Homo sapiens: one gene and its partners. The protein of the gene in region 3 purifies or fractionates together with the protein of the main gene of each other region. This does not show direct contact. Each region holds a gene or a part of one and is shown on either strand. Other genes may lie near its edges.

Evidence for each region.
Region 1: the proteins of STAM (region 3) and TRAF7 purify together in Homo sapiens (affinity purification with mass spectrometry; 2 studies listed by BioGRID and IntAct, with this or other methods). This does not show direct contact.
Region 2: the proteins of STAM (region 3) and SEC31A purify together in Homo sapiens (affinity purification with western blotting; 2 studies listed by BioGRID, with this or other methods). This does not show direct contact.
Region 4: the proteins of STAM (region 3) and NCEH1 purify together in Homo sapiens (affinity purification with mass spectrometry; 2 studies listed by BioGRID and IntAct, with this or other methods). This does not show direct contact.

Annotation. Positions count from the first base shown.
Region 1 is NC_000016.10:2,172,767-2,178,643, reverse strand, and holds the end of TRAF7 (E3 ubiquitin-protein ligase TRAF7), read right to left. Parts: intron 5,463-5,877; coding exon 5,245-5,462; intron 5,164-5,244; coding exon 5,090-5,163; intron 4,857-5,089; coding exon 4,808-4,856; intron 4,724-4,807; coding exon 4,596-4,723; intron 4,394-4,595; coding exon 4,311-4,393; intron 3,534-4,310; coding exon 3,494-3,533; intron 3,344-3,493; coding exon 3,227-3,343; intron 3,145-3,226; coding exon 3,022-3,144; intron 2,811-3,021; coding exon 2,691-2,810; intron 2,596-2,690; coding exon 2,464-2,595; intron 2,380-2,463; coding exon 2,260-2,379; intron 2,085-2,259; coding exon 2,070-2,084; 3' UTR 515-2,069; downstream 1-514. Other genes in the region: CASKIN1 (caskin-1), read left to right, coding at 1-94. UniProt on the Homo sapiens protein: E3 ubiquitin and SUMO-protein ligase that plays a role in different biological processes such as innate immunity, inflammation or apoptosis. Potentiates MAP3K3-mediated activation of JUN/AP1 and DDIT3 transcriptional regulators.
Region 2 is NC_000004.12:82,860,144-82,867,172, forward strand, and holds part of SEC31A (protein transport protein Sec31A), read right to left. Parts: coding exon 7,012-7,029; intron 6,818-7,011; coding exon 6,665-6,817; intron 4,456-6,664; coding exon 4,219-4,455; intron 3,250-4,218; coding exon 3,175-3,249; intron 2,430-3,174; coding exon 2,391-2,429; intron 1,566-2,390; coding exon 1,488-1,565; intron 1-1,487. UniProt on the Homo sapiens protein: Component of the coat protein complex II (COPII) which promotes the formation of transport vesicles from the endoplasmic reticulum (ER).
Region 3 is NC_000010.11:17,682,122-17,689,150, forward strand, and holds part of STAM (signal transducing adapter molecule 1), read left to right. Parts: intron 1-2,553; coding exon 2,554-2,629; intron 2,630-2,710; coding exon 2,711-2,806; intron 2,807-5,905; coding exon 5,906-6,052; intron 6,053-7,029. UniProt on the Homo sapiens protein: Involved in intracellular signal transduction mediated by cytokines and growth factors. Upon IL-2 and GM-CSL stimulation, it plays a role in signaling leading to DNA synthesis and MYC induction. May also play a role in T-cell development.
Region 4 is NC_000003.12:172,708,049-172,715,057, forward strand, and holds the start of NCEH1 (neutral cholesterol ester hydrolase 1), read right to left. Parts: upstream 3,020-7,009; 5' UTR 2,937-3,019; coding exon 2,799-2,936; intron 1-2,798.

The DNA of each region.
Region 1 (5,877 bases), on a different chromosome or scaffold from region 3:
CTCGGCGGCGGAAAAGAGCACTGGCAGCATCCTGGACGACATCGGCAGCATGTTCGACGACCTGGCCGACCAGCTGGATGCCATGCTGGAGTGAACGCCGCCTGGCCGGGCCCTCCCGCGCCGCCCGGGCCCTCCCCGCACACTGACCTATACCTCAGGATGGGCGCGTCTGGGCGCGGCGCGAGCGGCCGGGCAGGGCCCTGCAGAAGCACAACTCCGGCCCCTGGACCCGGGCCGGGGCGCCCACCGGGGACCGCCTGGCCGGGGGCTCCAAGGGCTCTAGGCAGACCCTGCGCCCGCGGGTCCTCCCCACCTGCTGCTCCCCGTGCAATACCTGCTGGGCCTCCTGCCCGCGCGGGAGGGGAGGGCGCCCCGGGACCAGGGATGGGGCAGCGCACAGGCCCGGGCCCAGCACAGAACTGCCCATCGGGACGCCCGGCCAGCCGCTCGGGCGCAGCACAAGGGACAGGGGACCAAGGTCAGGGCCCCCCTGCCCCACCGCACCCCCAGAATATAAGCTATCAAGAGTATTAATTTATTGGGAATGAGCTGAGGCGGATTTCCCCAGAGAAACAAAAAGGTATAACTTTAACAAATATATATTTAAAGAAAGAAATATTATTGATTCTATAGAAAACCATTTACCAACTGAAAGGACACGAAGTCTAGCTCCGGACAAAAGCTGTTAGAGGCCCAGGCTGTCTGCCTGCGGTCCTTCCTCCGGCCAGAGTGGAGGCCCCAGGCTGCTAGCACAGGTGGAAGGCTGGGGCCCGGGGGCGGGTGCTCTGCCGGGGGCTCCTCCGTGCTTCTCTCCTAAGTTCTCTGCGCCCCAAGAACTCGAGGTTGTGCCTTGCTCTCGGCGGCCGTGTCCTCCTCCTGGCGTGGCTGCGTCCCAGGGCGCGGGTGGGTTTGGTGAATGTGGGTGTGTCAGCGTGGCAGCCACGTGGAAGCAGGGCATGTAGCAGGCCAGGCCACGGGCTTGCAGCTCCTCTGAGGGTGTGCCTGGCCCCCTCTCCAGGGGCTGTGCAGGCAGCCCATCCACCCCAGTGGAGTTCCCACGGACGCTTCTGCTCATGGTCCAAGGCTGTGTTGTGTGGTCATTCTCGCCCTCCCTTTTCCTCTCTCCTCCTGCCCCCTCCAAGAAGTACTGACTGGTCTCCTCTATCGTGTTTGCTGATCCACAGTGTTGGGCACAACTTTGACGTTTCTTAAAAAAAAAATTTAAAAAATGCCGAAAACCAGCGATTGTGGTGTGGGGCGGGTGGAGGCGGCTGGCGGAGGTGGCGTCCCGGCGTGCAGGGCCCCTTCCTGCTGTCTCACCCCGTGTTTCCCTGCGAGTGGACGTGCCCAGCTGTCCCCCCAGGCCTCTCCTCAGAGGGCGGCACAGGCTGGGCTCCAGCAGGTGGGCAGGGGAGGTCTGGGCAAGGCGCTGCCGTCGGCTGTCAATAAACAGCAGGAAACAGAGGTGCCTGGCTCACTTTTTGGGGGCACATGTGTTGGGGGAGATGGGACTGGAGGCCAGCAGCTTGGGTGTGACGAGTTGCCTCCTAGCAGGGAGGGGAGGCCCCGGAGTGGGCCGAAGTCCTGGGGTCCACCAAAGGAAACTGCCCCATGCCCCCCCACTCACAGCAGCCAGTGCCTGTGCACACCAACCTCAAGGCCACACACAGCCCCCTTGTCCCGAGGAGCTGTCCCCACTCACAGCCACAGTCTGTGGAGCATTTATTTCAACCAGGAGGTAACCAAATCTACATACAGTCTAAAAACGGTAGAAAAGGTGAGTAAAAAGGCCCTCGCTCCATCTAGGGTGGGGATGGAGGGTGGGGATGGAGGGTGGGCCGGGGCAAGCGTCGTACCTGGCACCCAGAGAGGGGCTGGGCAGCAAGGACAGTGCCGAGTAGAGGGAGGCTCGCCGAGCATGGGACGGGGAGGGCACTGCCCGGCTGCCAGAGCCTGTCCACCTATGCCCACGGGGCAGGCAGAAACCCCGAGACCACCCCATGTGGCCAGCCTGGCTCAGAAAGGTCCAGGGCTGGTTCAGGGGAAACCACAGCCTGGCCTGGATCCTGTTAGCAAGTCCAAACCTGCAGAGAAAGGGCTGCTTCACCAGGATGTCCTGCGGCCGGCTGCCCTGCCCCAGCCACACCTGCCACACGTACCTGCCCTCCACCACTTTGTGCTGGGGCTGCCAGCTCCTCGTCCCCACCCCCGCTCCATCCTGTGCAGCCCCTTTGAATGGCCTGAGCCACGGGCACTGACCTTCACAGTGCTATCCACAGCCCCTGAGAAGAGTCGGCCCCGGGACACAGCCAGCGCGGTGACACTGCCCTGGTGACGCAGCAGGGTCTGCGTGCAGATCATGTTGTCCATACTCCAGACCTGGGGGCACATGGGACGTGAGGGCCCGCCGGAGCTCAGCTGCCAGCCCTCTGAGCCTCCTGCCACCGCTGGGCCAGCACGCACCCTGAGGGACCGGTCGTAGGATGCACTGAAGACTTTGGTCTGGTCTGGCGTCGAGATGACCGCCAGGGCATACACGGTGCCCACGTGGCCCGTGAGGGTCCGCACCTGCTCCTTGGACTCAATGTCCCACACCTGGGAGGGGTGGGCACAGGCAGGTCAAAGACACTGAGCAAGGCGGGGGAGACGGGGCCACAGTCTGGCCTTGCACCCAGATGCCCAGGCCTTACGTGGATGAGGTTCTCGTAGGTGCCACAGACAATGTGGTGATTTGTCACAGCAATGGAGTAGACGCTGCCACCAGACGTCTGCAGGACGTGGATGCAGTCAAGGGTTCGGATGTCCCAGATCTATGAGTAATCGTGGGCCAGTTGGTCCCAGGCCAGGTGCTTCACCCCCAGGGCCCCCGCACCCCCAGGGCTTCAGCACTGCTGGGCAGCCCACCCACCCAGCCAGGGGATGTGCGAAGGTAGGAACAGGGCAGATGGAGCCCCAGGTGCTGGCCTGGGAAGTGCTGGTAGGAGGCAAGGCCCTGTGGCCACCAGGTGTGCCCAAGCGCACCTTGATTGTCTGGTAGGAGCCGCTGTACAGGTAGCTCTGGGCAGCCACCAGGGCCCGCACCCAGTGGTTGAGGCCTGTGAGCTCCTTCTTCAACTTCAGCTCAGTGCCCACGATGTCCCAGACCTGCAGGGATTGCTGCAACTGTGGGCTGGGCGGGCAAGGGACGCCTCAGTGACACACACGTAGGCACAGCCTCCACCCGTACCTTGATGGCCTTCAGGGAGCCGCTGAAGAGCACGTTGTGTGAGGAGACCAGCGTGCACACCGGGTTGTCATGGGCCCGGATGGTGTTCACCTTCTGCAGGTTCTGGATGTCCCACACCTGATTGGGGAAGGACCGGCAGCCTCAGGGCACCAAGCCCTGCCACCTGGAGTCTGGAGCCCAGACGGGGAGAAACACGTCCCTGGGGCACCTACAGACTGGGGCGGGCCTGGGCCGCCTCCTGCCCACCCGCCTGTAGGCCCCACTCACAATGATGGTGCAGTCTGCAGAGCCGCTGTAGAGTTTGCACCTGGGGAAGCAGAGACAATGTGTCAAGGTGGGAGAAGCTGTGTCCATGCTGACACCGCCCTGGCAGGGCCCGAGGTCCATGCCAGCCATCAGGAACCAGCAGCATGGCCCAGGGCCAAGGCCACTGCTGTGTCCTTAAGCGTCAGCCTATTTTCCAGTCTCCACATGGGAACCTTGGAAGGGGCGGGCCAGCCCCTGATGCCTGCCTGGAAAGCATTTGACAGCGAGCTGGGAGGTAATTACCCACCCGTCAGCCCTGAGTCAGTCCCAGGGCCGGCTGCTGGCAGTCAAGCTGCCGCCTCCTGAAAGCGAGCATCTCTCACGCACACGCTTACTTGCTCGCTCCCACAAAGCCTCACGATAGGAGACAGGAGGCAGGCGGGCCACCTGGAGGCAAGAAAGTGGCCAAGGTAGTTGCTCCGTAGTCTCTATGCCCTGGGCTTTGGCTGCAGGCAGGGGAGAGCTGAGCTCCTGCCTTCACCCCCTAAGGTCCCCCCTATCTTCTGGTTGCGCAAGGTGCACCTGGGCCAGGACAAGGTTCTGCTGGGAGGCTGGCTGCGCCAGGTATTGGGAACACACAACTTTGGAGATGGTGTAGGCCACACAAGGGCCCACACACTGCTACCCAGGAAACAGTGCTGCTCCGGGTGGAGGGTGCCCTATAGGTGGGGCACACACATAGCTACACAGGCTCGAGCTCATGGCTCACGGCCCACGGGGTGGCAGCGCCACGTCTCCTGTCCTGGGAATCACTGATCACACATGTGCCTGGACTCACCCCTGGATGCAGAGAGCCAGCACGATGCCATCATGGCCCTCCAGTGTCTTCTGACACTTGTAGGTGGTACATGTGTCCCACACCTGCAGAGACCAGGGCCACAGTGGGTCCCAGCAAGGTCAGCCCAGTGTCAAGGGGCAGCATGACAGGAATGAGTGAGGGAGCCCCGCCCATGGGAGAGGGCCCTGCCCAGAAGGTCCCACCCATAGGCAGGCTGGCAGTGCCAGGCATGTGGCAGTGCCCAGCCCAGCCAGGCTGCAGAGACTGAGGTAGGACCCTGCCCACCTTGATGGTCTTGTCAGAGGAGCCACTGAAGAGCAGGTCACCCATGGAGTAGACGCAGAGACACCACACAGGGCCCTGGTGGCCCACAAAGGTCCCTTTGCACTTGAAGATCTGCTGAGGGTCGTAGGCTGCAGAGATGGGAGCAGTGGGTGAAGGCCCAGTTGGGGCCCGGGGGGGAGGGTGGGCGGGAGCCACGGCGGGTCCATACTCACAGCCTAGGATGCCCATGTTCAGCCGCGCGTTGATGTGGGACAGCTCGTCCTGCAGGGCCAAGGGCAGGGCAGAGGGCAGGTGGGCAGGGCTGCTGTGGGGCCAGTGCAGCCTCTCTGCCCCTGCTGCCCTGGGCCAGGGGTGGGCAGGGGTGACAGCAGCCCCTGCCACACACAAGACCCCTGATCTTGACTAGTGTAGGCAAGGCCAGGGGAGGCCTCCCTGCCGGGGCCGCCGGCCTCCCCGGGTCTCACAACCCAGCCCCTCCAGCCCCGCCCGCTCACATTTAACATGGATGCGTCCCGCCGGAACTCCATGAGGTCCTCGCTGAGCTTGCTCTGGTTTTCGTCCAGGACGTCTGAGTAGCAGGAGGAGAGGGGGTGTCACTGGTGCCCGGAGCAGTGGCCAGGCCCCTGCCTGCCCCGGTGCCCACCCTCACCAAACTTGAGCTCCAGGCTCTTCTCTAGCTGGTCGATCTTCTCCGAGAGCTTTCCCAGCATGGAGCGCAGGAAGGCGATCTCCTGGTCCTTCTGGGCCAGAGCCACGTGCATCTCGTGGAAGCGGTCATCCGTCTGCTGCAGAAACTCCTTCAGGCCCTCGAAGCGGCAAGTCTCCAGGTGGGTCTCGTAAGTGTCCTGGTTCCCGATGAACGTGCACCTGCGGGGACAGGACAGCTGCCTGCCTGGCGGGTCCCTGCCGGTGCCTCCCCATCCCCAAGAATCCCCCTCAAATGCTCCAGCCCTGTGGCCGCTGCACCCCAGGTCCAGCTGCCCCCACCCACACCTGCCGTCCTGCCCCTCCTCCCCATCCAGCTACCCCCAGTCTGCTTCACAAGTGAGATCCCATCACGTCACCCCCGCAGAGCTCTTCAAGGGGTCCTCCCTTCCTGAGGATAAAACCCACGCTGCTTGGCAGCCTCCCTGCCCACCTCCCTGCCCTGAAGAACTGGGCTCCTGCCTCTCCTCCCACCCCCACCTCCCTCTCCAAAGCTCTCAACCCCAGCATTTGCTCAAATCCGCCCATGCTGGGCCGGCTGCGGGAGCGTCCACGCCCGCCTTCCTGGACGCCCTCG
Region 2 (7,029 bases), on a different chromosome or scaffold from region 3:
TTATCCTTATTTATGGACTTCTGAACGAGATATAAGGTCAAAAAATGCACAATTTATTAGGTATTGAGTGCCTTCAATGTGTAAGCTACTATGAAACAAATAGCTCATTGAGACAAAGGGGAAGATTTTACCTCCTTAAACACATTTTTTCAAAGAACCAAAAGTACACATTGATGACTACTATTTCATTAAATGCATATATTTCTTACCTATTATTCATGAGTGCATTCCCAAATGATCTTCTATTTGATAATACATAGTCTAGTTGTACATAAATGAAAGTACATTTCTCTATGTATCTTACAATTCTGTCTAAATATTCTCAAAATTAGTTCTTTTCTTTTTTAAATCAGACAGGGTCTTGCTCTGTCACCCAGGCTGGAATGCAATGGTGTGATCATAGCTCACTCCAACCACGAACTCTTGGGCTTAAGTGATCCTACCTCAGCCTCCCAAATAGCTAGGACTACAGGCATGTGCCACCACGCCTGGCTAATTTTTTATTTTTTTTTTTAGAGATAGGGTCTCACTATGTTGTCCAGGCTAGTCTTGAACTCATAGCCTCAAGTGATCCTCCCACCTTGGCCTCCCAAAGTGCTGGGATTACAGGCATAAGCAAACATCATGCCTGGCCTAGTTCAAAGTTTTAGTAAAGATTTTATCCATATCCTTTATTCCCTTGTTAATTAAACTCTAGGAGATCCACTTCTAAGGAGAATGATTTTTGCAATCATCTTGTAATAGACTAAATTTACTTATTTTTATAACTTAGTAAAAAATTATACATAACATTCCATAGTCAAGATATCACAAAGAACAATGAAAAAGCCAAAGATGAGATGAGAAGAACTTGTTGATTAATTTTCCAAGATGAAATAAAATTAGAAAGCAAGAAAAGTAAATTACAGATTTGTTCATTAGTGGTTAAAAAAAAAAAAACACCCAGAAAATTAAAAGGAAAAATTAATGATGTAACTCTGTGTTCAAGGACTCTTCTCAATTATTTACAAAAATTATCAACTAAGGACACATTTATTGAAAATCATGACAATAAGTTTAGTGAAATATCCTTTACTTCAACTCCATGTTCAGTACTAATTCAGAGGCCTATTAGCCACTGATAGTTGGCCCAAAATTATAGGCCAAGAAAAACATTAACTTTACATGCAATGCAATGCAGTGAGGATGTTTGAATAAAATCTCTTTTCAGTTTGACATCCTGAGAGTCATCTGACCAAATTATGTTAATCTCACATCAACTGTTAGTTTTAAACCATATAATCCAGAAACAAGGTTGGAGAACTAGAGTCTGGAGATGATACTTCTGTCAGTATAGGTAGATAGATTCCTATCCTAAACATCTCAAAGAAAACAATTTACTTCAACTTTATTTTGCCATAAGTAGTCAAGAAAATTTTCCTTATTTTAATGTGAGATACACAAATATCACAAATTTGTCCAATATAATATGAAAAAAAAATAAGTACCTCTCCCAAGAGCTGCTCTTCAGCAGCAGGGCTCTCCTCCCCATCACTCTGTGCTACTTGGTCAGAGTCTTTAAGAGCCTTTGGTACACAAAACAATTACAGGGGAAGGTGAAGAATGTAGTATTAAAAGGCTATTAGTGAACCAGGAAGACAAAAGACCCAACCAACAACATTCAGAGCTAGTTTAATCATAAGAAGCAACAGTGAGTAAATTTATTTGAGAAATACCATTAGAGGAAAAGCAAAGAACTATTACTGCTAACACTTTCCCATTCTTTTTTTTTTTTTTTTTTTTTTTTTTGAGACCGAGTCTCACTCTGTCGCCCAGGCTGGAGTTCAGTGGCACGATCCCGGCTCACTGCAACCTCCGCCTCCCAGTTCAAGCAATTCTCCTGCCTTAGCCGCCCAAGTAGCTGGGATTACAGGCATGTGCCACCACGCCCAGCTAATTTTTGTATTTTTAGTAGAGACAGGGTTTCACCATGTTGGTCAGGCTGGTCTTGAACTCCTGACCTCAGGTGATCCACCTGCCTCGGCCTCCCAAAGTGCTGGGATTACAGGCATGAGCCAACACACCCGGCCCACTTTCCCATTCTTTCCTACCATTTTTTTTTTCCTGGCCAAAAAAAAAAAAAAAAATTTTATCTTAAGTATTTGAGTAGTCATTAATTCTGTTTTTCCTGCTTTACAAAATTCAAATATGTATGTCAAGAGAAAGGAATGCTCTACCAGCTAAGCTCATGTTATTTTAAAATGAGAATTATTAATTTATTAAAATATCTAGAATAAGCATTTATTTTTATACCATAAAGCATAAAACACAAATTTCTTAAATGATATTTCCTTCTTCGTTATGACCTAGCCAAAGTTTTAGAAGGTAGCTATTTTTAAAGGCCTTCTTACCACATTGGCTCCATCCACTTTGTTCAAGGCCAAAGCAATCTGAAATAAAAATAACAGCTCACCTACTACATGGAATTCTATTTCAGAGCATCCAGCAAATGTTCACCTCTTGCTTCTCACTGGCGAAAATCCACAAAAGTTCTTATAGGAATAGTATGTTTAAAAAAATTAAAAAAGCTATGCAGAACTGGTTCTCCATGGTGCTAGCTTCTTTCACATGGAAGTAATTAGAAATAATCCGACAATCATTCTATTTCCTCATTTTTTGCCATCAGGCATGCAAGTAAAACTTTCATATCAATCTCTTACAAGCCTAAAAAAGTTACAGCCTCAAGAAGTTTAGACTACTAATAAAGTTAAATATAAAACTCTAAAGGAGTGAGCAAAGACATAGCCACTAAGCAGTGGGGTTGTGATGTGATCTTAGTTAGTTCTGCCTGACATCAAAAGAGCACTAATCTTCAATATGCACTTAAAGTGCACAGTATACCTCTACCACACATGCAACAACCTGCAATGCTATAGAAAACTCTAGCCATTTCCAAAGAATGATGAAAGGCTAATACAAGTTACATAGTCATTTATCAATATGTATTCAAAACTCTGGCAACCACTGTGGGTAATGATGGAGAATAAGAAAAAGAAAAAGGGAAAAAACGCTGGCAACCAAACACAAATTATTATTAAATGTTTATTGGGTGATTTGAGATAATCTGTGTAGAACTTTATTTTTTAAAAGTATGATTCATAAAGAGCATGCCATCTAACTTTCCCAAAAGTTTACCTTCTTTCCTAGATCTTCTTTTCTGTATCCTAGAAGTTCAAGGTATTTTCCACGAGAATCATCCTCAAAGTTTACCTTTAAAAAAAAAGACATATTCTTAAAACAAAGACCTACATTTAAAGGCCGAATTTTTATAAGAATGAATCAAATTCCAAAGAGAATTATTAAAAATATCTGAAGTCTACATTCTAAAGATTCACTGTTTGAAGGAATCCAAAGAATAGTGGGTTTTTTTGTTTTTTATTTGGAGACCCAGCCTCAGGAGGTCCTGAGAACATGTGCCCAGAATTATTTTTTTAAATAAGTTATTTATTAATAGTAAATATACTAGTAATTAATTATCCTGGTTGAATAAAGCTTACTTTTGAACAGTAATTTCTGTAAATACAAACTTATGTCCAAAGGTTAAACTGATACAAAACTCAAACTATGTGGAATATTCTATGTCCTAAAATTCTTTCCCAAAATTATTACAAAATATAAATTCTTTAATTTTATACTTTAACCTAACTGTATTCAAGACTGCTTTACCTTTGAAAAACCAGTACCGTATAAAGAAACAGACATTCCAGTGGAGGCAAAATGACCAACCAGGAAATTCTATTTGTTATTCTAATCTAACTCCTCTTAAAGTAAAAGGAAAAATGCCTCCAACCTCTCTCCTCTATTCCTCTTCCTCTTTTTTCATTTTCCTTAACTAGATCTACTATAGATGTTAAATATTCTGTTTTCATTATAGTAAACTCTATGTACTCATCTTCAAAATAGGTGTGCTGACTATGTCGCTCTCCTCTAAACAGACCTATTATTATTTTTTTTTACTTATTAAAAATGTATTTCATATTACACTTTTCAAAGCAGAGAAGGAAAAACTCTGGACATAAGTTAGGTTGTATGCTCTTTATAAGGCTTCTTAATTTCATGATGAATTGCTGAAATCACACTTTTTCAATTGTTTCTTTAATAGGAGGACAGATTTAGAATATAAAGGAACAGTTAAATTTGCAGATAATGAAATAATATAGCTTTAAACAGCAACTTTACCTTCAAAAAGGACCACACATTTTTCTCAAATTCAGTCTGAGAAGCATCAATTTTTTTTTGGCAATAATTGATAAATCCTTGTGACTGCACAGCCTGCTGAAGTTGGTCTGATCGGCTGAGGAACTCCTTTTCTGTTACAACCTGACTAATGAACACATGGTGCTGCTGCTGCTGCTGCTCAGCTCCCTGATGAGAAGGCATTCTGACATTCTCAAACGTAACCAGTTTGCCTCCAAACTATAAAAGAGAGAATGAACAAACTCAGTGTTAACCCAAGGATATGGCCAAAAAAAGTGCTTATAAAGTGGCCTAAACAGATAATCTGGATGAAATTAGTTGATACAACCTCTCATGCGCCACAGTCTGACACCACTTCAATTTCTGTTCTAGATGAAATGTACTTTTTTGGTTTTTTGGTTTTTTTTTTTTTGAGACAGAGTTTCGCTCTTAGTCACCCAGGCTGGAGTGCAAAGGTGGGATCTTGGCTCACTACAACCTCTGCCTCCTGGGTTCACGTGATTCTCCTGCCTCAGCCTCCTGAGTAGCTGGGATTACAGGTGCCGGCCACCATGCCTGGCTAACTTTTGTATGTTTAGTAGACAGGGTTTCACCATGTTGGCCAGGCTGGTCTTGAACTCCTAACCTCAAGTGATCCACCCAGATAGAGAAGACCAGATAGGACGATGAGAAGATTAAGCAGATCCAAAGAACAGACTTACGAGTGACATAAAACATATTCAAAGGTCCATTTTAGGAAGATTAATCTTGGAATATGTAGTAGAGATTAGAGGGGGAAAAGACAAGCAACAAATATGAAATCAAGCTATTAGAAGTTTGGCATGAAAGAATTAGGCAAGGTATCAGCAATGTAAAAGGAAGAAACAAACAAAAAGTGCTAGAGAGGATGTGGAGAAACTAGAACCCTTGTGCACCACTAGTGAGAATGTAAAATGGTAAAACGGCTATAAAATGGTATGGAGGTTCTTCAAAAACTTAAAAATAGAACCATCCTATGATCCAGCAATCCCACTTCTGGGTATATGTCCCAAAAAACTGAAAGCAGGATCCCAAAATGATAATTACAAACCCATGTTCACCACAGCATTTATTCACAATAGCCAAAAGGTGGAAGCAACCAAAATGACCATCAAATGAATGGATAAAAAAAAATGTGGTATATATATATATATATATATATATATATATATATATATATATATATACAATGCAATATTATTTGGCCTCTAAAAAGAAGTAAATTCTGTCACACTACAACACAGATAAACCTTGAGGACATTAAGCTAAGTAAAATAAGCCAGCCACAAAAAGACAAGTACTGCATGATTCCATTTATATGAGTAATTTAAAGTAGAAAACTCCTAGCAACAAAGTAGAATGTGGTTACCAGGGATTCAAGGGAAACAGGAAATGGGGAGCTGTTGTTCAAGGGCACAGAGTTTCAGTTTTGCAAGATGAGAAAGTTCTAGAGATCTGTTGCACAACAACGTGTATATAGTTAACACTACTGTAGTATATATTTAAAAATGGTTGTAGTGTATATTTTAAAATGGTTAAGATAGTAAATTTTATATTATGCATTTTTTACAATTAAAATTTTATATTATGCATTTTTTACCATTAAAAAAAGCTGGCAATTAAAAAAGAAAGCTAAAAGGATGAAGAAGAGGGAGGACACTCCCTGCAAAAAGAAAAGAAAAAAAGAAGAAAAGAAAAGAAAAAGAAGGGAGGGAGGGAGGGAAAGAGAGACAGAGGGAGGGAAAGAGAGACAGAGAGAGAGAGAAGGAAGACAAATTTAAAAGGGAGGAGGGCCGGGTGCAGTGACTCATGCCTGTAATCCCAGCACTTTGGGAGGCCGAAGCGGGTGGATCACCTGAGGTCAGGAGTTCAAGACCAGGCCAGTCAACATGGTAAAACCCCATCTCTACTAAAAATACAAAAACCAGCCAGGTGTGGTGGCACGTGCTTGTAATCCCAGCTACCCAGGAGGCTGAGGCAGGAGAATCGCTTGAACCAAGGAGGCGGAGGTTGCAGTGAGCCAAGGTTGTGCCACTGCACTCCAGCCTGTACAACAGAGTGAGACTGTCTCAAAAAAACAAACAAACAAACAAAAAAATGGAGGAGGGGAGGAATATAAAGTGTTGGCTACACAACAACAATGTAAATGTACTTAATGCCATTGAACTGTATATTTAAAAATGAACAAAATGATCAATTTTATGTATATTTTACCATGATTTTTAAAAAAGGGAAAAAAAAGAGTAGGTTCCAATTTTTCAGAGAAACCATTTTGAATGATGAAATACCCACAAGTACATCTCAAATCCCAACTTAAACCCTGATTGCTTCCATCAGAGTGACTCTATAATAACACTTTGGTATAAAAAGTCCTTTGTGCCTATGGACCATAAAAACAAAATCCACCTACTGAAAAAGAAGCACCAACAGGCCTTCGAATCCACTTGGGCGGCTTCTTCAGAGGCAGCACTATACTATGCTGAGCAGTCTGCTGTGGAATTTGTAACGGAGGAAGGGGCTGTCCTGTGCCAAAGGGATCAAGATTCCCAAAAGATGATGAAAGCTAAAAAAGATAATAATAACATAAGCATCCGACCATACACAAAGTTTCATTTTTTTCCAGTCATATCCAAAAAAATTTTTGATCACAATTGTCCAATTAACCAGCATTGTTAATCAGTGAAGTCATTTCAAAATATTACACAACACATACTTTTTTCAGGCATTATAATAGAAAACTTTAACACTTCCTATTACCTTGTCAACTTGTTTCTG
Region 3 (7,029 bases):
ACCAAGATAGCATTTAATCACTCCCAAAAGTTCCTTCCACCTTATGCAAGTACTAATATGCATTGTCACTATAGATTAAATTTCCTTTTCTAGAATTTCATAAAATGAAATAGTATTGTCAGTACTCCTGTGTCTAGCACTAAATGTGTTTCTAAGATGAATTCAAATTTTTGTATGTATCAATATTCCTGTTTCTTGGGGAAGAGGTATTACATTGTGTTAATATATTACAATTTATCCATTCATCTGTTGATGGGCATTTGGATTGTATCCAGGTTTTGACTCTGAACAGAGCCTCTGTGAACATTCTTATAAAGAGTACTGGGTAGTATGCTTTCATTTTCATGTCCTTAAGGGAAATTATGGTTCTGTGATTTCATTTGTTGTAAGCCTTAGATATTTGTTATTTGATTTCCAAATATTTGGGTATTTTTATGCTATCATTTTGTTATCAATTTGTAGTTTAATTTTGTTATGGTCAAAGAATGTACTTTGTATGACTTTAGTCCTTTTAAATTTATCAGTGTTTGTTTTATAGGACAGAATGTAGTCCATTTTGTTGAATTTTCCATGCACATGAAAAAAAATGTGTATAATGCCATGGGTGGGTGGATTGTTGTGTAATGCCAGTCAGGTCAAGTTTCATGATAGTGTCATTCAGGTATTCCATATCAGTACTTTTTTTTCTTGTGTTATCAAGTCATTGAGGGGGCATGTTGAAGTTTCCAGTAGATTTGTCTGTGTTTCCTTTCGGCTGTATCGATGTTTCCTTTATATATTTTGAAGTTCTATTTTTGTGTTCATGCACATTTAGAATTATGTTTCCTTGGGGGACTTAACCGTTTTATTATTATGTACTGTCTCTCTTTATCCCTGTTAGTATTCCTTGTTATGAAAACTGCTAACGGTAGTGAATAGATAAAAGTGTAGTTGGATTACAATCTTAATCTGCCATTTTTCTAGATGATTGGTTATGTTTCTTCTGTTTTCTCTTTCTGTCTTTTGTGTATCAATCAAATGGTTTTTATGGTTTTATTTTTTTGATTTAAAACTTTGTTTTGAGACAGGGTCTCACTCTGTCTCTCAGGATGGAGTACGGTGGTGCCATCACAGCTCACTGCATCCTCGACCTCTGGGGCTCAAGTGAACCTCCCACCTCAGGCCATTCACTGCGCCCATAGGAGCTGGGACCATTTCTGGCTAATTTTTGTATTATTTTTTGTAGAGATAGGGTTTCACAGTGTTGCCCAGGCTGGTCCCAAACTTCCGGACTCAAGCCATCTGCCCACCTCGGCCTCCCAAAATGCTGGAATTATAGGTGTGAGCTGCTGCACCCAAGCTATTTTATTTTCATTTTTCTCTTAAAAATATTTGTAGTGGTGGCTCTGTGTTAAATTTTTTCATTTTTTTTCTCTCTGTACTTCAGTTTGGGTACTTTCAGCATATTTTCAAATTTACTGATCTTTCATTCTTACCTGATTAATTCCATCCACTTTTTAATTTTACATATTTTTTTGTCTCTAGACTTTTATCTGGGCCCTTTTTAATATATTTCTTCATCATTATGTGGATGATTTCCAGCATGCTTATAATAGCTTATATAAAGTCCTTGACTGCTAATTTCATCATCTTTGTTATTTCTGCATTCTCAGTTGACTGAATTTTCTGCTAGTTGTGTATGGTAGTTTTCTTCTTCATATCATGTCTTCATATCATTTTATTGAATGCTTAGTACTTTGAATTTTATATTTTTGAGCATCAGGTGTTGTATTCCTGTTAAGGAGTATTGGACTTTATTTTTTCAGAAGTGGTTACATTCGTCTGTGGCTTATGTTGTTAGGCAGTATGTAGGTATGATTGAGCTGCATTGCTAGGGTCTAAACTCCCCTGTATATCCACTGAATCCTCTGGATTTTCAATAGATGCTTCACTGTGGCCTCATCTCTGACGACTGTGTGAGCGTTGGATCTCTTTAGCATATCGCCCTCGGTCACTTTTTGACCAGTTTCATGGAGTTTTTCACCTGTGCATGCGTGGGTTTTTCAGAAGGTCTTCACTGATACTTGGAAAGTGCCTCTAGGCAGAAAGTTGAGGCAAACTTCTGGCTTATCTAATTCATTTTCCTTCTTGGATATTATCATTCAGTACTGCCTGTGGCCTCATGTCTTTAAAAAGTTAACCTCAGTGTGGAAAATCTGTTTTTCCAGTTTTCTAATTGTTTACAACGGGAGTGTAAGTCTGGTCTGTTTTTCCACCCTGGCTGGAAGTGGAAGTCATGGCCTACCATTTTATTTTCAAACCTTTTTTTTTTTCCTACCCAGAATTAGCCTGAAATGCCTCATCTACGATTACTAATAAGAGAGCCTGTTAATTTTGTTTGAAAAATTTAAAGGAACTAGTTTACAGTTTTTCAACCGTGTTATTAATAAAAATTAAATTTCCCTACTTTATCATAGTCTCCCTTTTTATCGTAGTCTTTTGTCTATAACAGTTAAGGGGCAGGGGGAAGCTAGATGTATTATTAAGTAATTTTTACTTTTCTCATTTTTTTAGACCTAAGGATTGTCTTCGGTCTATTATGAGAAGAGTGAACCACAAAGATCCTCACGTTGCTATGCAGGCTTTGACTGTGAGTGGTTTCATTTTAATCTGTACCACGAAATTACCTGCCACAATTGAGCCCCTTTAACTTCTGATTTTGTGCTTTTAGCTTCTAGGAGCATGTGTATCAAACTGTGGCAAAATTTTTCATTTAGAAGTATGTTCAAGAGATTTTGCTAGTGAAGTAAGCAACGTATTAAATAAGGTAAGGAGCATTATTTCCAGAAATTAATTAAGGCAGTCTTCTTTCTTCACATATTTTATTGTTTAAATCTTCACAGAGGACTATTCTGTGCTTTTTAAGAAATCCTTTCTAGGCTGTGTCTATCCAGTATATAAATAAATATTATGTTTTGTTGAAGAGACTGCGGATTCATGTAACTTTGAGTTAGTTTTTTCAAGCCATATTAGAGTGTTTTTAACCTGTTCTTTTCCATCATACTTTCATCTGATAAGAAAACAGGTATTTCTATATCTAATTAAATAATATCAGTCTATTTTACATACTGTTTTTGTAGGCACAAGGTATTTTCCTAATGGAAAACCTTTCAGAAACACTGCAAAAAGTCTATGGCACCGTTGAGTTTTTATCTTTATCAATAAGGCTGCTTCCTGGCCATCACAGGATTTTAATACTATACTGCTATTCTTACTGGCTGAACCCACAGCTGGAGTTGCCTCAAAAGTGGTGGCGGGGGAGTTTCCACAAGGGACTGCCCCAAACTGTTCCAGATAGGGCCAGATGAGAGTCCAAAAAAAGAGGCACTAAATGCCAGGGTGATCAGTCTAAAGGATTTATTAGGGGAACTTACACAGGAGGGCTGCAGTTTATAGGAGGGTTTAAGGAATTTGGCTCAGGGTTGGGGCTGGTTTCTGTGTGTTTAGCAACATACTTGATCTTTTAGTGTTTTGGGCCACAACCTGAACAACTTTATCAGTGCCTGAGAATGTTCAAGGCCCCAGTTTGGGTCCAAACCTATGGTGGAAAACATGCAGCTGGCTAGGTCACAGAGCGGGACAAGGCACTCTGTTTTTCTATTGGGACACAGAAAGAAAGCAGGGAGAACTGGGGACCCTACAACTGCCCACTCAACTGTAGAATTCTAGTCACACAGTTCAAGAAATTTTTCAATTTTCAATTAGTAATATGTGAGTTTCCCCAGTAAAAATTTGTGCATTCTAAAAGTAATTATTTTTGGCCTTTTTAGGGGGAGTACTGTAAATCAAGAAAAAGTTTTTGTATGTTAAAAGGGAAAATGCCTCATGTTTTTGGGAAAAATGAATAGTTCCAGGTTACAGTAGAAAAATAGCAGTATAGAAATATAGTAAGAATGTAAAATTCTGTACTTTTCGAACATCATGGTTAAATGATAATTCTTTCCCTTTCCTGCTTTATGCAGTTAATATTTATTTTCTACTAATTAATAAACATTGTCTTTTAATGTCCTGAATGTCCATCGAGATTACAACTGTTTATGAAGAGATTCTAATACCATGTTTTTTGTAATGTAGGTGAAAAATGTGGTATACTTACCTATGTATAATAGTGCAAGCAGCCATTTCCAAAAACGACTTCCTATAGGCAAGAGGACTTCTCTTTATTTTCTGAATGTTTTACAGTGAACATATTGGTTTTGTACTTAATAACATCCCGCCTTTTTTTTTTTTTTTTGAGACAGTGTCTCTCTTTGTCACCCAGGCTGGAGTACAGTGGCGTGATCTCAGCTGACTATAGCCTCTGCCTCCCGGGTTCAAGTGATTCTCCTGCCTCAGCCTCCTGAGTAGCTGGGAATACAGGCATGCGCCACCACGCCTGGCTGGTTTTTGTAGTGTTAGCAGAGATGGGGTTTCACCATGGGGATGGTCAGGCCAGTCTCGAACTCCTGACCTTGTGATTGCCCACCTCGGCCTTCCAAAGTGCTGGGATTACAGGCATGAGCCACCGCGCCCAGCCAACATCCTGCCCTTTTAAAAAATTTCCTTTTATTAAACAAATTAAGTTCATGTATAGTCTCAATAAAGCGTTTGCAAATCCATTATATGCTCCTTGACCAAAATACAGATTACATGTGCACTTAGAAAGAATTTTTTTTCTTCTAATAGAGTAATCTAAAAGTCTAACCTTCTCCATTTTTAAAAGCTTTAGCCAATTATTTAGTAAGCATTGGTTTGAAATACATTCATGACATTTCATAGAGGAGTTATTTCTTCTCTGGTATCTGTGAAGGTTTCTTTATATCTATTACATCAAATAGTAAGACTTCAAATTATTGCCGCTATGAAGATACATCAGTATTTTAATGAACTGGCCAGGTTTTTTCCCTTAATAAGCAATGAGTAAAATAATTTATTTTGAAAACTCACTACATTTATCTCTTTCTTTAATACGGAAGAATAATGCCCTGCACACCTGCCTTAGACTAACTTGAATCTTTGTTATACATCAACCATAAAGAGTTATGTTATTTTGGGCTGGGCACGGTGGCTCATGCCTGTAATCGCAGCACTTTGGGAGGCTGAGGCGGGCGAATCAGTTGGGGTCAGGAGTTCAAGACCAGCCTGGCCAACATGGTAAAACCCCGCGTCTGCTAAAAGTACAAAAATTAGCTGGGCATGGTGGTGCGCGCCTGTAATCCTACTCGGGAGGTTGACACAAGAGAATCGCTTGAACCGCATCCCCCACCCCCCTCTGGGAGGCGGAGGTTGCAGTGTGCTGAGATCGAGCCACTGCAGTCCGGCTTCTGCCACAGGGTGAGACTCTGTCTCAAAAAACAAACCAAAAAAAAAGAAAAGAAAAGAAAGGAAAAAAAGTTATGTTATTTTGAAGAAATTAAATTTTCAAAATGATTAACATGCAGTGTACCTCAAACTAGGCCCCAGATAATTAAGCATCATGGAAAAAATGCATAGTCATGAACATTAAGAAGTCAGGAATTTGGAATAAAGGAACTGTATCATTTATTCTCTCCTTCCCACTTTTTTATTGCTTTGCAAAAAGCAGACACTTTTCCTTGTCTTACTGATGTACAAACCTTGCTTCGTTGCAAAATATTCTGAAAAGTCCTTTCAGATCTCCAAAATCTTATTACCTATTTAATGCTTTAATTTGAAGTGAGATATATATGATGGGTTTTTTCATAGTGTGAACATTAGTTTTATTTCGAATAACTATATTTTCTTGTCTATAGCTATGCATAACTTGTGATTCAAAAAACATCACTTAATAACTTTACTATTTAAAATGTCTGTATTAAATCATTGGCTAGGAAATTGGTGCTCTTTTATTTCTTTTTCTATTTTACAGGGTCATCCTAAAGTATGTGAAAAATTAAAGGCTCTTATGGTTGAATGGACAGATGAATTTAAGAATGATCCACAGCTTAGTCTAATATCAGCAATGATTAAGAACCTTAAGGAACAAGGAGTTACGTTCCCAGCTATTGGCTCTCAGGTATTTTGGGAATGAAGTTGTGTGTGTGCTACAGTTTGTTTCTCTTAAATAGCTATATTTATTTGAATTTTTTTCTTCATTCCCAGGTAATTTTTACTACTTCAGAGGAATTTTCGTTAGCTAATTGTGTTAGTAACTAGTTGTATTGCTAGTTAGTAATACTAGTTTTCTGGCATTCAGAGGTGCCAGAAAAGTATTATAATGGAATATTAATGTGCTCTAACCTCTCTACTTCTTTATAAACGAATTGGTTTAACATTTTGCAGTTTTTGAAATTTTTTGGTATAGTTTTTGTTTGTTTGTTTTTGAGACGGAGTCTTTGTTTGTCGCCCTGGGTAGAGTGCAGTAGCGTGATCTCGGCTCACTGCCACCTCTGCCTCCTGGGTTCAGGTGATTCTCCTGCCGCAGCCTCCTGAGTAGCTGGGACTACATGCACGTGCAGCCAGACCTGGAAATTTTTTTTTTTTTTAAATAGAGGTGGGTTTCACCATGTTGGCCAGGCTGGTTTCGAACTCCTGACCTCAGGTGTTCTGCCCGCCTCGGCCTCCCAAAGTGCTAGGATTACAGGTGTGAGCCACCAGGCCCAGCCAGTACAGTTTTAATAATATACACAAAATAGCTTTATTAATTAGGTAACACTGTCTTTTTAAATGCTCTTAATGCTATAATTTTCTACAAAGAATGATAGCTCAGAAATCAGGATATCCTTAAAAGTTAGGGATGACTTGAGAGATTCTTTTGTGGAGGAAATTTATGAATTCCTCTATTAACAATGAGAGGACTTTAGAAGGGGTAAATGGGAAGAGAAGCACCTGAAGCATTTTCTCCTTAGTAAGAGCCGACCAGTACATAAGTCTTCCTTTCCCCAGTGGATATGGCTAAATAGCTTAACTTTGCTCTCCTGTCCACCCTTGTGCCAAAAAAATTCAGTCTCTAATTTATGTCATGTAGAAAAAAATCAAGAAATGTCTTTTTTA
Region 4 (7,009 bases), on a different chromosome or scaffold from region 3:
GAGATCCTAAGTAGCTGCTTCTTAAGGAATATGGGGAACCCCAAGGAAAAAAAGCACAATGAACATAATCTCAATAGTCTGACTCACTGCACAAGATAAAGGACATAAAAAATGCTAAAGCATAAAGTATTTGCCAATGACAACAGAATAAACTAACATTCACATTTCTTAATGGTAGGCAGCTGATGCTGTCTTAGGAAATAGGCTGAGCTTAATCTCTCAAACAGCTTAAATTGCTTTTGTAGTTGAGCCAATCAACTCAAACTAAAATTATCTGAGTAACGAGGTTGACACCATGCAATTTATTTATTTATATATTTTTTTGAGACAGAGTTTCACTCTTGTTGCCCAGGCTGGAGTGCAGTGGCACAATCTCGACTCAACGCAACCTCCGCCTCCCAGGTTCAAGCGATTCTCCTGCCTCAGCCTCCCAAGTAGCTGGGACTACAGGCACCTGCCACCAGCCCTGGCTAATTTTTTGTATTTTTAGTAGAAAGAGGTTTCACTATGTTGGCCAGGCTGCTGGTCTCGAACTCCTGACCTCGTGATCCACCCGCCTCGGCCTCCCAAAGTGCTGGGATTACAGCGTGAGCCACCGCCCCAGGCCATGACACCAGGTAATTTAGTAGTAGCACTCCAGGTTTCAATCACATAAATTACTTCCAGTTTACATTTATTTTATTGCTTCAAAAAAGGTAAGCATTCTTATAGATGTTCCCACAATCCACAATGGACCCTTGGGGACAACTAGAAGACTCACTACAAGTACCAGGCACTTAAATACATTACTAAACCTTATAGCAAACCTACAAGGTAGTTTTTTGCCCTATTTTACAGGGAAAACTCAGGAAGATTTGAGGTGACACTGGAAAATTGCTTTATTGGGTAGAATATGTTTCCATCTGATCATAATGATCTTTCTGATATTTCACAATTTAGAGGAGAAGTGATAAGAGCCATTTTTCTGCAAATCCACTCCTGAGCCACAGTGTCAGGTGAGAACACTGGTTACCTCATCTATTGCTGACTTCAGGTTACACCCACTATCATTCCCAAGCACCACCTGAGGGTATACTCTGTGGAGGACCTTACACAGCCTTGTCCTTAATGGGCTGGCAAGCCTAGCTGGGAAAGAAAAGCTTTTCTCCAAACCTAGCTTGTCCGAGATTAACTTATGATGGAGAAGACTTCTTTGGTGACCTGAAAACTAAGAATAATCTCTGCAGCCAACACAGCAGTTTGATCTTTTTCCTGTTTTCCTCTGTTTAAGTTATTGTAGTAGACCATTAACCCACCCAGGTAAACATCACTGTTCCTCAATCTTTGAAGGGTATTACTTTCAAATTACATAATTTCATGGGGGAGGAGAGGGAATGCAAGGCTTCCTACAACAAGACTGACTTTCTTGACACCAGTGCTAAAGAAGGGGATGATCATTTTCACCATGTCAACATTATAGGAAGCAAGAGGAAAAGAAGGGGGGCAGGGGTCTATAGCTTCATAGACCTTTCCTAAGAGACAAAAGGGGCTTTGGAGGTGAGAATGTGGCTGAATTCAGGAAAAGCAAATCCACGCTAGGAATGTGCTGCAATATCCTAGTAAGGGGACTTTTCATAGGATAAAGCCCCACAGATTATGTAATCCTACACATAATGAGTGGACAGGGAACAGGAACATAAACCCTCTGGGAAAATCATGACTTTTTTAAAATCAGCTTTCTCAGGTTGAAATGATTTTTTTTCTCTTTCTCTAGTTGTCATTTCTGAAAGAAAGAGTTTATAAAAATATTCTGAGATTAAAGCCCAAGGTTGTGGGGAGGGAGGAGGCTTGGTTTTGGAGAAGGTTAGAGTTTAGATAGAGCAGGCTGCTCAGAAATACTGTCCAATCAGAGGGCTCAGCCTTGGCTGCAGACTGTAGTTTAGATTTTAGATTCTCTGACACTAAAAATAATGCCTCTTACCATGGAATAAACCAGAGACAGTTATATTTTCCTGTGTATGGAAGGAATGAACACACGCCCATGATACAGTGGAGAGAAATGTTACCCTCCCAGGTTAAGGCAGGTAACCTCGCTCAGGAAAAGGTTATCTGACAGCCAAGGACATAAAATAAATGCTGCAGGGCAAGCAGAAAACATGCATCATGCAAACCAGGGCTGCCGCCTCCTCACCTCCTTTCAGCCAGCCCAGCCTCCCAGTCCTCTTTCTTGGGCTGAGCTGAGATCTGCCTCGGGTGAAACGAGAGATCCCTATGGTTCCTCAAGTGCTTGGATGGAGAGCCCTGCCTGCTGTCTCCGGGAACGGAGCGCTCCACAGCCTGGGGACATTGCGAGACTGCCCTTGCCTGCTTCTGCTTCTAAGGTGGCTGCATTCCCAGGAACCAGAGCCTGCTTTTCCCGAGCTCTCCTAAAAATATTTATCCTCTGCCGGTCCCTATGGGAGAACGACAGTGTGAAGAAGGGTGGTTTATAAACTGCTTAAGGATTTGCCTTTTGACGTTGCAAACCAAGGAAGAGGAAGATATTTAGGACAGACGAAGGTTTAAACAGTTGTCAAATTCTATTCAAGCACTTCTTCCCCGTCACAAACGCAGACGGGGAAATGCAGATCTAGCCCGCTGCTAGCAAGGAGGCGAATGCGATACCCTGAAAATTCCCGACTGGACCACCTCAAAAAGCGACAGCCTCAATGCATTAGGAAAAACCTGCGTTTTCGTGGAACCCGGCGGAGGAATTTTGTATCCCCTTCAAATATTGCGTAAGAGGAGGAAGAGAGAAGCAGCGCTGGGCTGCACCTCACCACTTGCTGTGCACCCCGGAAAGTGGCGTCCAGCAGCATCAGCTTCCAGGGGTCGGACACGGAGCCAGGCAGCGGGATGTAGACGTAATAGGCGGCCAGCGCCACCAGGGCGGTGAGCAGGACACAGGACGACCTCATCTTGCCCTGGCTCGGCTCGCCAGCGGGCTGGCAAAGAGGAAAGGGCGATACCACCCGGAGACCTCCGGCAACTTTCTGCCCGCGGCAGCTGCTCATTCACGCGTTTCTTATAAGCCCAGGAGCCAATCAGAGGCTGCGTCGGGAGGAAGTTGGAGCGCGGACATGCCCCCTCTACGGTGTCCTTGCAAAGTGTGGCAGTCACTACAGGTTTGAGGAAGGCTCTGTCGCTGCTCTGGCCGTAGGCACAGCGGACTCTGGAGGACACTGGTTTGTACTGCATGCGTGTGAGGATGGCTTTCCTCCTGGAAGGTCTCAAACGGAAAATAGTTTCAGTGTGACGAGTCTCTGGACAAAGCAAGTGGGTCATTCTGACTCAGAGTACTGAGAAAGGATATAAAAATTCTGTTTTCTGGAGCCAGACTTGGAGTGGTTTGTAAGTTCTAGCTGATATATGGCAAAAGAAGATATTAAATTCTTCTGGCTCAAGCAATGAAAGGCCAGTAGTACATCTAGCACCCAAGTCTTGGTTTCTAAATCCTATGCTCCAATAAGAGGAACCACGGCTTTTTGACACAACCTCTGGAGAAAAGGCTGATACCAGGGCTGGGGCTGTAAAGTACAAGATGAACCTGTTGTGCCAGAGATGCGGAAGTGCTCAAAAAATGATAGGAACTGGTCAAAGGTCCACAGCTGCCAGCTTGAAGGGTCTCCCAGTGGCTGAAGCTGGGATAATTTTACCATCAATATAAATCATCATAATGGATAACCCATTGATTAAAATAAAACTCAACAATCTATATTAATATAAATAAATGAGGAAAGAAGAAAGGCTTTTCTTAAAATAGAATGCCAGCTAGTATCCATAGAAAATCATAAATGAATGCTAAAACTAGAGGGTAAAAATTTGACACAGAATTTTGGTCCTTCATCAGAAGATCTCTCCACAAATTACTACAAAGGGAAAAAATAATAACTTTTTATTGGAGAAACGTGTGGATATCACCTGAAAAATTCTTTCAGTGAGTCAATGGTAGCAGAAATACACTTAAACCCAGATTTCTTGTTAATGATTGGGGGTGAGGAGGGGTGGGTGAGTACTGAATGGGAGAGAGAAAACTTCACTAGCAAAATTTCAACCAGAAATCCAGAAGGAAAACAGTTAGAAGACCTGTTTCAAGAAAGTGGTAGGATGACAACTCCAAACTTATTGATGAAGGTCTTAAAACACCTAGTATATATAATTATGCATCTTAAGATGGTAATTTTAATTTAATCAAATTAATAGAAGTGAAATAACCATAAATTTGGTTCTGATAATGAGATTTTTAGGAAACAGTTGGCTTCTTCTTCAACATTGAAGGAAAACTGATAAGAAGGGCACACTTTCATGGTATTTCAAGCAAGTTCTCTCTCTCTTTTTTTTTTGTTTTGTTTGTTTTTGGTGTTTGTTTTTTGTTTTTTTTGAGACGGAGTCTTGCTCTTTTCGCCCAGGCTAGAGTGCAATGGCACGATCTCAGCTCACTGCAACCTCCACCTCCTGGGTTCAAGCAATTCTCTTGCCTCAGCCTCCTCAGTAGGTGGGATTACAGGTGCCCACCACCACACCTGGCTGATTTTTGTATTTTTAGTAGAGATGGGGTTTCACCATGCTGGCCAGGCTGGTCTCAAACTCCTGACCTTGTGATCTGCCCACCTCAGTCTCCCAAAGTGCTGGGATTACAGGCATGATCCACGGCACCTGGCCTCTCTCTCTCTCTCTCTCTCTCTCTCTCTCTCTCTCTCTCTCTCTCTCTGTCTTTTAAGTTACTGGTTAAACTCATAACTCTAAACAGATAGGAATGTTTATGTTTATGTTTGTGTGTGAGTATATGTGTAGAAAATTAGAAGCTATTCTTTTTTTTTTTGAGATAGAGCATCGCTCTTGTCACCCAGGCTGGAGTGCAATGGTGCAATCTTGGCTCACTGCAACCTCTGCCTCCCGGGTTCAAGCCATTCTGCCTCAGCCTCCCGAGTAGCTGGGATTTCAGATGCCTGCCACTAAGCCCAGCTAATTTTGTATTTTTAGTAGAGACAGGGTTTCACCGTGTTGGCCAGGCTGGTCTTGAACTCCTGACTTCAGGTGATCCACCTGCCTCAGCCTCCAAAAGTGCTGGGATTACAGGTGTGAACTACCACGCCCAGCCAGAAGCTAATCTTTATGGGTGATTAGGAATAATCCTGGAGATATAAACCAAGCTGACTACTGGATTTAGTTACATTACTTGCTTTCAGGAAATCTGCAAAATAAATCCAAGTTTTACCTTGTCGACAATACTTTTCTCTTAGATTTTGACTATATGTTCATAAAAACATAGATCTTAGAGCTAATGACAAAACCAAACCGAACCAAAAACAAACAAGCAAACAAATCCAAAAATCCCCACACCTAACTCAGCCTTCCCTCTTCCACCAGCAGTTAACACACTCGGTGTTATAGATGAGCCTCTTGAGGATTAGCGCAGCCAAATGGCTTACTCATATTCCTCTAGTTTGTAAGTGATAGTAGCAATATTTATTTCTGCCTCTCAGTGAAGTGTGGCTTCCCTTAAGCAGTACACTAAGAGATAGAAACTAAGAAAGAACAAAGAAACTGTAGTAATTCTCAGATCAGAAATCTGAGAGCCTCTGTAGATCTGAGAGTTTTTTAAAATGAGACTAATTTGAGATAAGTATAAACACCTTCATCACTTGTTTTCAATACTTCATTCATTCAACAAACATACCTGGCCTACACTGGGAAATAAAGAAGTTGTGGCAGGCAGGCTGTAAGGTTTCGACTCTTTGATTTTATATGCTTGGAGGGTGGTGGGGAGGGGTTCAGGGGAGGATGTAAGCATGATACAGAAGGAAGAGCCAAACAATAAACAAACAAAAATTAATAAGCAACATGCATTAATTTGCCTTGCTATGAGGTAATTCTGTGGTAAGCACTTTGAATATATTAACTAATTTAGCTTCATAACGATTCTACGAAATAGGTACCATTGTTACTCTAAAAACAGGCACTGAAAGATGAAGTGCTTTGCCCAAGCCATCCAGCTGGTATGTGAGCCCAGAGTCTGAGCCTAGTGCTCATGTGCTTTACCACTCAGCTCTACTGCTAAGTGGTTAAAAATGAAAATGGCCGGGCGTGGTGGCTCACGCCTGTAATCCCAGCACTTTGGGAGGCCAAGGTGGGTGGATCACCTGAGGTTGGGAGTTGGAGACCAGCCTGGCCAACATGGGGAAACCCCGTCTCTATGAAAAATACAAAAATTAGCTGGGTGTGGTGGCACGTGCCTGTAATCCCAGCTACTCGGGAGGCTGAGGCAGGAGAATTGCTTGAACCCGGGAGGTGGAGGTTGCAGTGAGCCGAGATTCCACCATTGCACTCTAGCCTGGGCAACAAGAGTAAAACTCCGTCTCAGAAAAAAAAAAAGAGAGAGAGAGAAAACAGAACAGGGTGTCTGGGAGCTGCTTTAAATTGGGTGGGAAAGGGGACCTCTTTAAGGAGATGCCATTTGAGCTGACATCTGCATGACAGGAGAAGACTGCCATGCAGGGTTGTGGAGGTGGAGGGAACAGGTGCAGAGGCTCTAAGATGCTAACCCGGTCAATGAACACTAACAGCTAGTGAGGCAGAAGTACTGTGGGAAAGGTGGTGGAACAGGCTCAGCCACAGAGGTAGTGTGGGTGCAGAAGAGCAGATCATTTAGGACCATGTAGGCCATGTTAAGGAGTTTGAATATTCTGGTACAATGGGAAGCAATTGGAGGTTTTGTAACAGGAAAGTGACATGATCTGATCTATTCATATATTTAAAAAGGAGCACTACAGCTGCCATGTGGAGAAGACCTGTCAGGTGGCTTTTGCAGTAGTCCAGATGAGATATGATGGTGGCCCGGAGCTGCAGTTTAGTTTAGCAATGGAATCAAGGGGACAGATTTTGGGTATATTTTAGAGATAGGGGAGATAAGACATACTCATAAATTATGAACGATGATAACAAGAGTCAAAATACTCTGTTTCTAAGGCAATAAGGTGTAGTTTGAGTG